2 linked regions of the Homo sapiens genome follow. The protein of the gene in region 1 interacts with the protein of each later gene in a pairwise test. Each region holds a gene or a part of one and is shown in the gene's direction. Other genes may lie near its edges.

Evidence for each region. The genes of interacting proteins can lie anywhere in the genome.
Region 2: the proteins of AP3M1 (region 1) and SPAG16 interact in binary tests that used the Homo sapiens proteins (3 or more experiments, as listed by UniProt).

What each region holds. Positions count from the first base shown.
Region 1 is NC_000010.11:74,123,329-74,126,828, reverse strand, and holds part of AP3M1 (AP-3 complex subunit mu-1), read left to right. Parts: intron 1-473; coding exon 474-681; coding exon of another isoform or gene 682-703; intron 704-2,304; coding exon 2,305-2,449; intron 2,450-2,918; coding exon 2,919-3,019; 3' UTR 3,020-3,500. UniProt on the Homo sapiens protein: Part of the AP-3 complex, an adaptor-related complex which is not clathrin-associated. The complex is associated with the Golgi region as well as more peripheral structures.
Region 2 is NC_000002.12:213,924,464-213,927,963, forward strand, and holds part of SPAG16 (sperm-associated antigen 16 protein), read left to right. Parts: intron 1-3,500. UniProt on the Homo sapiens protein: Necessary for sperm flagellar function. Plays a role in motile ciliogenesis. May help to recruit STK36 to the cilium or apical surface of the cell to initiate subsequent steps of construction of the central pair apparatus of motile cilia.

The sequences.
Region 1 (3,500 bases):
CAGCTAATTTTTGTATTTTTAGTAGAGACGAGGTTTCACCATGTTGGCCAGGCTGGTCTTGAACTCCTCACCTCAGCCTCCCAAAGTACTGAGATTACAGGTGTGAGCCACCGCGCCCAGCCCTAGCTAATTTTTGTAGAGACGAGGTTTCATCATGTTGGCCAGGCTGGTCTCAAACTCCTGACCTCAGGTGATCCCCTCCCAACCCTGGTCTCGGCCTCCCAAAGTGCTGGGATTACAGGCATGAGCCACCACGCCTGGCCAATTTTGTGAAATAATATTTTCAATCCTCAGCTGGTCAAATTCAAGGATGCAGAACTGTGGCTACAGAGAGCCAACTCTGTAGTACCTTATTGTGGAGTTAAAGGCAGGGTAGGATACTCTGGACAGAGGTTTTCAGGATACCTCTGGAGCTCTCCCCACACCATTAATTGTGTTTGTGCTTTTGTATCTTTCTCTGTTTCTCTTTTTAGTCTAGTGGCAATACCAGTGTATGTGAAACATAGTATCAGCTTTAAGGAGAACAGTTCTTGCGGCAGATTTGATATAACAATTGGACCAAAGCAGAATATGGGGAAAACTATTGAAGGAATTACAGTGACAGTTCACATGCCAAAAGTTGTGCTGAACATGAACCTGACACCCACACAAGGCAGCTATACATTTGATCCAGTCACCAAGGTACAGCCACTTCAAATCAAGAGTGAGCAAGTGTTTCTGCAATCTATTTTGTGATTTGTGGGGAGGAATGGAGGGAAAGGTTTGGCACCTTGTTTAAAACTAAAGTTCGTATCAAAACCTAGAGAGCATACTGTGCTGTGCTTCTGCCACTGGCTGCAGAAGGAATCCTGCAGCTGCTACTGAGTAGATGAACAGAAAAATGTGTCATTCTGTCCTTTTTCAGAGTGTGCCTTCACTCATCCATTATTAATCCAGAGCCTGACTCTGCTATCTAATAAGAAAGAAGTAAAAGCTTTTTTAAAAAGAGAAAACATTATGTAGATTGAAGAAGATATTATGATGGTCTATGAATTACTAAGTTTTCTATATAAATTGATCACTAAGACCTTTTTCTTCCTTTATAATTTAAAAGCATTATTTCATACTCTTTCACAGGGCTAGGAAAGTTGCTTCCTCACTCTACTTAAATTTTTGTGTAACAGAGGGTTTTCAGAGAAACTGTAGCAGATGATTTTCTCTCAGCTTCCTGATTAGCTGGTAAATATGATTGTTTTCAATAGCAGAGTCATTGAGCTACCTGATAAATGAAAAGACATGTTTTTTGAATAACATCATAGAATGTTAAAGATTATTTAATACAGTTGTAAGGATTCAAAGAACCTCCTCCTGGAGACCACACAGGGCTGAGAAAGGGAGCTTCAGATTCCTGGCCCTTTACCACAGCTTCAACTATGACAGCTTTGCTTTCTTTCTCATCTGCTGTTGAGCCTTCACACCGAAGATTTCATTTGAACAATGGGTTTCACAGCTAAAAGTTTTAAAAACACCATCTTAAGTCAATCTAATTATTTTACAGAAAAATAAACAGAGGCTGGGCGCAGTGGCTTACGCCTGTAATCCCAGCACTTTGGGAGGCCGAGGTGGGTGGATCACCTGAGGTCAGGAGTTCGAGACCAGCCTGACCAACATGGAGAAACCCCATCTCTACTAAAACTACAAAATTAGCTGGGCATGGTGGCGCATGCCTGTATCCCAGCTGCTTGGGAGGCTGAGGCAGGAGCATCGCTTGAACCTGGGAGGCAGAGTTTGTGGTGAGCCAAGATTGCACCATTGCACTCCATCCTAGGCAACAAGAGTGAAACTCTGTCTCAAAAAAAAAAGAAAAAGAAACAGGCCCAGAGAAAAGTGAAGATGGTTATGATGGAGAACATTTGAAATCAGAGGGCCTTAGGTTCAAATCCCAGCCTTACCTCTGACTAACTATGTGACCTTGAGCGAGTCATTTGATCTCTGAGCCTTAATGTCCTCTGAGCTTTAATTTCCTCATTTGTAAATAGAAGACAAAAGCTACTTCACAGCCCTCAATGAGACAACATATGAATAATGCTAAGCACGGTGCTAATACAAAAGAAAATGCTCAACAAATGTAGATTCTCTGCTCTCACTCCCCATTCAAAGTCACAGAATTAATCAGAGGTAAACTCACTGTAGATGCCAGATCTCTTGTTTTCAAGAGACTGCACTTCAGTTTGTACAGAAGTTTATGATATCTTTGAACTTTGTTTTTGAGGGTTTGTCTTTAATAAATGGTTCTATTTGTTTTTCATTTTTTGTCTTTTTAAGGTACTAACATGGGATGTGGGAAAAATTACTCCACAAAAGCTCCCAAGTCTTAAAGGACTGGTAAATTTACAGTCTGGAGCCCCCAAACCAGAAGAGAATCCGAGCCTCAACATACAGTTTAAGATCCAGCAGCTTGCTATTTCAGGTAAGGATAAGGTTGACTTGTAGTTAAGGGTAATTGAGTTTTGCAAGCTCATTTATTAGGCATTTAGAAGAGTAACAAAAGTTTCCTTCTCTAGAAAGAGCAGTAGCCCATTTGCCTTTTATACTGTGCTTGGTGGGGCAGTCTCACAGGCACCGACCAAATGATTTTTCAGAGCACCTTATTTCAAACAGCTTCCCCTCACCTCCGCCCTCATTTAAGCACCAAAAAGAGAGTTATTCATATTCACAGAAAGTAGAATTATACTTCACAGACATTCCCTGCCTGTGTGGGAATCTTAACCAAAACCATACCATCAAAGTGCAATAATTTGTAAATGATAGAAGAGACATTTCTTCCAAATGGTGGAAGGGACACTGGTTAATGTCAGATTTACCATATAGCGCTCATTGCTAACATTATATTGGTTGGGATGATGATAATTTATTCTTTTTCATTCTTTTTGATACAGGCTTAAAAGTAAACCGTTTGGACATGTATGGGGAGAAATATAAGCCATTTAAAGGAGTCAAATACGTCACGAAAGCTGGAAAGTTCCAAGTGAGGACATGAGAAGAGGCCAAAATTCCTCAGGACCAGTTTGTTTTCCAAGTGTCATTACGATGTATCACTATTAGGTACCAAGTGAGTGGGAATACATATTCTAGTTAAAGCATTTGTGTCTAGCTACACACCGCTAACAAAGTTACTTAGTTATCAATGTAGGATTCTTAAGGAGCTTTAAGCTAAGGAAACCTTTTAGTGACTTAGCTTATTTTGTATCTTTTCACTTAGGAAGATTTTGGAGGTGATTTTTTTCCATAGGAGGATACCATCTGGCGGCTGCACATTGTAACAGTAAAGGCAGAAAGCTGTAGTGATAACCTCTCTCCTAAAAGAGTTAACTGGTCTCATCCAGCAGAAGCTATCTTAAATCTGTGATGTGTCAGGTGCAGCCAAATATCACACCTTCTGATCTTAGCCATCCCAAACCAGTATCTGTCCCGAGAGGAAATTCCCCCCACCCCCAGAAGTTTACAGAAAACTGCCTCTT
Region 2 (3,500 bases), on another chromosome or scaffold:
GCCTTCATGGATCCCAGCATGGTTTCTCAGATGATTGGCCTGCAGGGTCAGTGTTGACTAGCCTTTTAGTTCCTCTCTGTGAGAGCAGCACATACAAGCTGCTTCTCGTCTGCCATCTTGGCCCTATCCCTCATCTTTATTTTCATTTCCTTTGGCCTAGGTAACTTTTTTTGGTACTTTTTCATTTTGCTTTGCTTTGCTTTGCTTTGTTTACTCTCAATCTTTGTATCTCCTTAGAAGTTTAGTGTGCCTCGTGTAAAAATCATATAGCTGAATTTGTTTCTTTTTAGCCAAACTGAAAAATCTTTGTCTTTTATGTCTTTTAGCTTCCACTTTAGTCTATTTGTGTTTGTTGGATTTGTTCATATGTTTGTATTTCTATCTAAAAACTTATTTTTAAAATTCATTTTCTATTTGTATCATTTATTCTAGTGCTTTTTTCCTCCTTTCCTATTTTCTTTTAGATATATTAGATGTTTATAATTGTAAGTTTTTCTTACCCATTTCTTTTTTTCTTATACTGGTTTGGAAGTCATATGCTCTATTACTATTCTTATAGTGCTCACTCTTAACATTTTACCATGCTGACTGAATTTAGTAAAGCCTAAATTGATCAAGGTTTTACTTCTCTTCTTAATAGCACATGAACTTTATTAATACTATATCATTATTGTTTTTTTTTATTTTTACAAGCATTTTTGTTTTATTTTTGCAAGCATTTTATTTATCTACACAAATATTTCTATATACTTACATGTTTACCAAATTGTTTGCTCACTATTTCTTCCCTTTCAGATCTTCTGTCCCTAAAATATATCCTTAGTAATTTCTGTAGGAGAGGACTGCTTTGTTTAGTTGGAACATTAATACTTGTTCTTGTTTCTTTTCTTCCTTTTTTTTTTTTTTGAGGTGGAGTCTTGCTGTGTTGCCTAGGCTGGAGTGCAGTGTCACAATCTTGGCTCACTGCAACCTCTGCCTCCTGGGTTCAGGCAATTCTCCTGCCTCAGCCTTCCAAGTAGCTGGGGCTACATGTGTCCACTACCCTATCCGGCTAATTTTTGTATTTTTAGTAGGGATATGGTTTCACCATGTTGGCCAGGCTGGTCTCGAACTCCTGACCTCAAGTAATCTGTCTGCCTTGGCCTCCGAAGGTTCTGGAATTACAGACATGGGCCTCTATGCCCAGCCTTGTTCTTGTTTTGAGAGAGATTTTTGATAATTCCAGAGTAACATTATTTTCTATTAGCTCTTTGAAGAAATTTCACCCCTGTGACTTATTTTCTCTGTGATGTTGTTTAAGTGTTTTAGAGATAATGTAGTCATCTTATGAGTCATAGTGAAGATCAAATATATATAAAGAGCTTATTAGTGTTTCTAACACATATTTATCACTATATAAATAAATAACCTTATTTTTCTTTTTTCCCTCCTTTTTTTCTTATAATTCTTATTATTGCCAATGCTGCTCAGCAATTCACTAAAATGCATCTAAGTAAAAATTTCTTTTTATTGACACCACTGTTTATCCTGTTTGGTATACATTTTTCTTTCCAAACATGTGGTTCTAGGTCTTAAATTTTCTAGTTTCTGTACATTCTCAACCCTTAATTCTTTGAATGTTACATCTATCTTTTATTTCCATTCTCTTCTGGAATTTTGATTAGGAAAATATACTTTTTTATTGTATCCTTTATAATTTTAACCACCTATACTGTGTTCAGTTCCTCATCTGTCTATAGTTGGGATAATTTTTTCAAATATGTACTTTATTTATTTTTATTTTTTATTTCCATAGGTTTTTGCGGAACAGGTGGTGTTTGGTTACATGAGTAAGTTCTTTAGTGGTGATTTCTGAGATTTTGGTGCACCCATCACCCAAGCAGTATGCACTTTACCCAATCTGTAGTCTTTTACCCCTCGCCCCACTTCCATTCCACCCTTTCCTCCAAGTCCCCAAAGTCCATTGTATCATTCTTATGCCTTTGCAGCCTCGTAGCTTAACTCCCACCTGTGAGTGAGAACATATCATGTTTTTCATTTTTTTTCCGGATTTATTTCCCAATTCATTTACTCTGAATTTTGCTGTTTCTCATATGCTATTTAACCCATCCATTGATTTCTTAATTTCAATAATTTTATTTTTAAAATTTCTAAATATATATTTTTTTCAGATTTGCAGATTCATGTTATAACCTTACGTCGTTTGATCTTTTTATTGTAGCTGTTATTTCCTTATATACTTTACTTATAGTTATATTTTGTACCCTTTAATTATAACAACTAGTGTCCTTCAGGGTATTTGTTAATTTTATTAGCTCATCCTCAGTCATGGCTTCTTATTTCCCATTATGTGTTTGAGAATAATTTTGTAAGCTCATACTTGGTTGAATTTTATTTGCAGAATTTTGAGTAGCTAATTTCTAATAACTTGGGCTGTATACCAACAGCGTGGATCTACATTATTAGTCAGCTCAGTCTGCCATAACAAAATAACAGAGACTGGGTAGCTCAAATAACAGAAATTAATTTCTCACACTCCTGGAGCCTAGAAGTCTAAGACCAGAGTGCCAGCCTGATCAGGTTCTGGTGAGGGCCCCCTTCTTGCCTTGTAAATGGCTGCCTTCTTGCTGTGTCCTCACAATGCAGGGAGCGAGTTAACTCCAGTCTCTTTCTCTGATTATAAAGGCACTAATCGTATTACAGGGTTCCCGTGCTCATGACCTTGTCTAAACCTAGTTATTTCTCAGAGGCCCTACCTCCGAATACTGCCACATTGGAATTAGGGCATCAATGTACGGATCTGGGAAAGGAGTGGCACAGTCAGTCAGTCCATAACATTCACTTGTGCTCTTTTTGAGAGCTTTGGTTCCTTCTATTTGTGTGGAGCCCAGGGAAACTCTGATCTTTTGCATCTCTTAAAACACACTTTTTTGATTTTAGTGTACCATTCTTTTTCTCTCTCTTGATTTCTCTCAGCCCTCAGAAATGGCCTTTATTTTTTCATGAACCAAAGTTATACAGTTTTCCATATTTCAGGCCATGTTTTTGAAAGGCAAAACCATTTCAAAAGAATGTTCAGAAATTTATATTTGATATATTTTGGATTTAGTATATGAGCTCTGACTCTATATATTAAAAACTTATGGGAATATTGTTTATATTTATTGTTGACTAAATATCAGTTACAGCACTCACAAAGAAATAATACTGCTTCATTCTAGTTGTAATTATTCCAGTGTGATTTGTTTTTTTTGCCTGGCACATGGTTTAAAACACAAAATAAGCATATAAAACTTATATGAGAGGGTTTTTCAGCCACAGGCAGAAACATACCACAATAATTTTTATCCTATGCTAAGATTTTGGTCCATAATAACATGATACCCATTGGAAAGATAGATTTGAGAAAGAAGCATGCTTAAATAATTTTTAAATTTTTTTACATGCATGTTTTTGGATAAGTGTATTGTTCAATCTTTAATATTAAAAACTAAAATTCT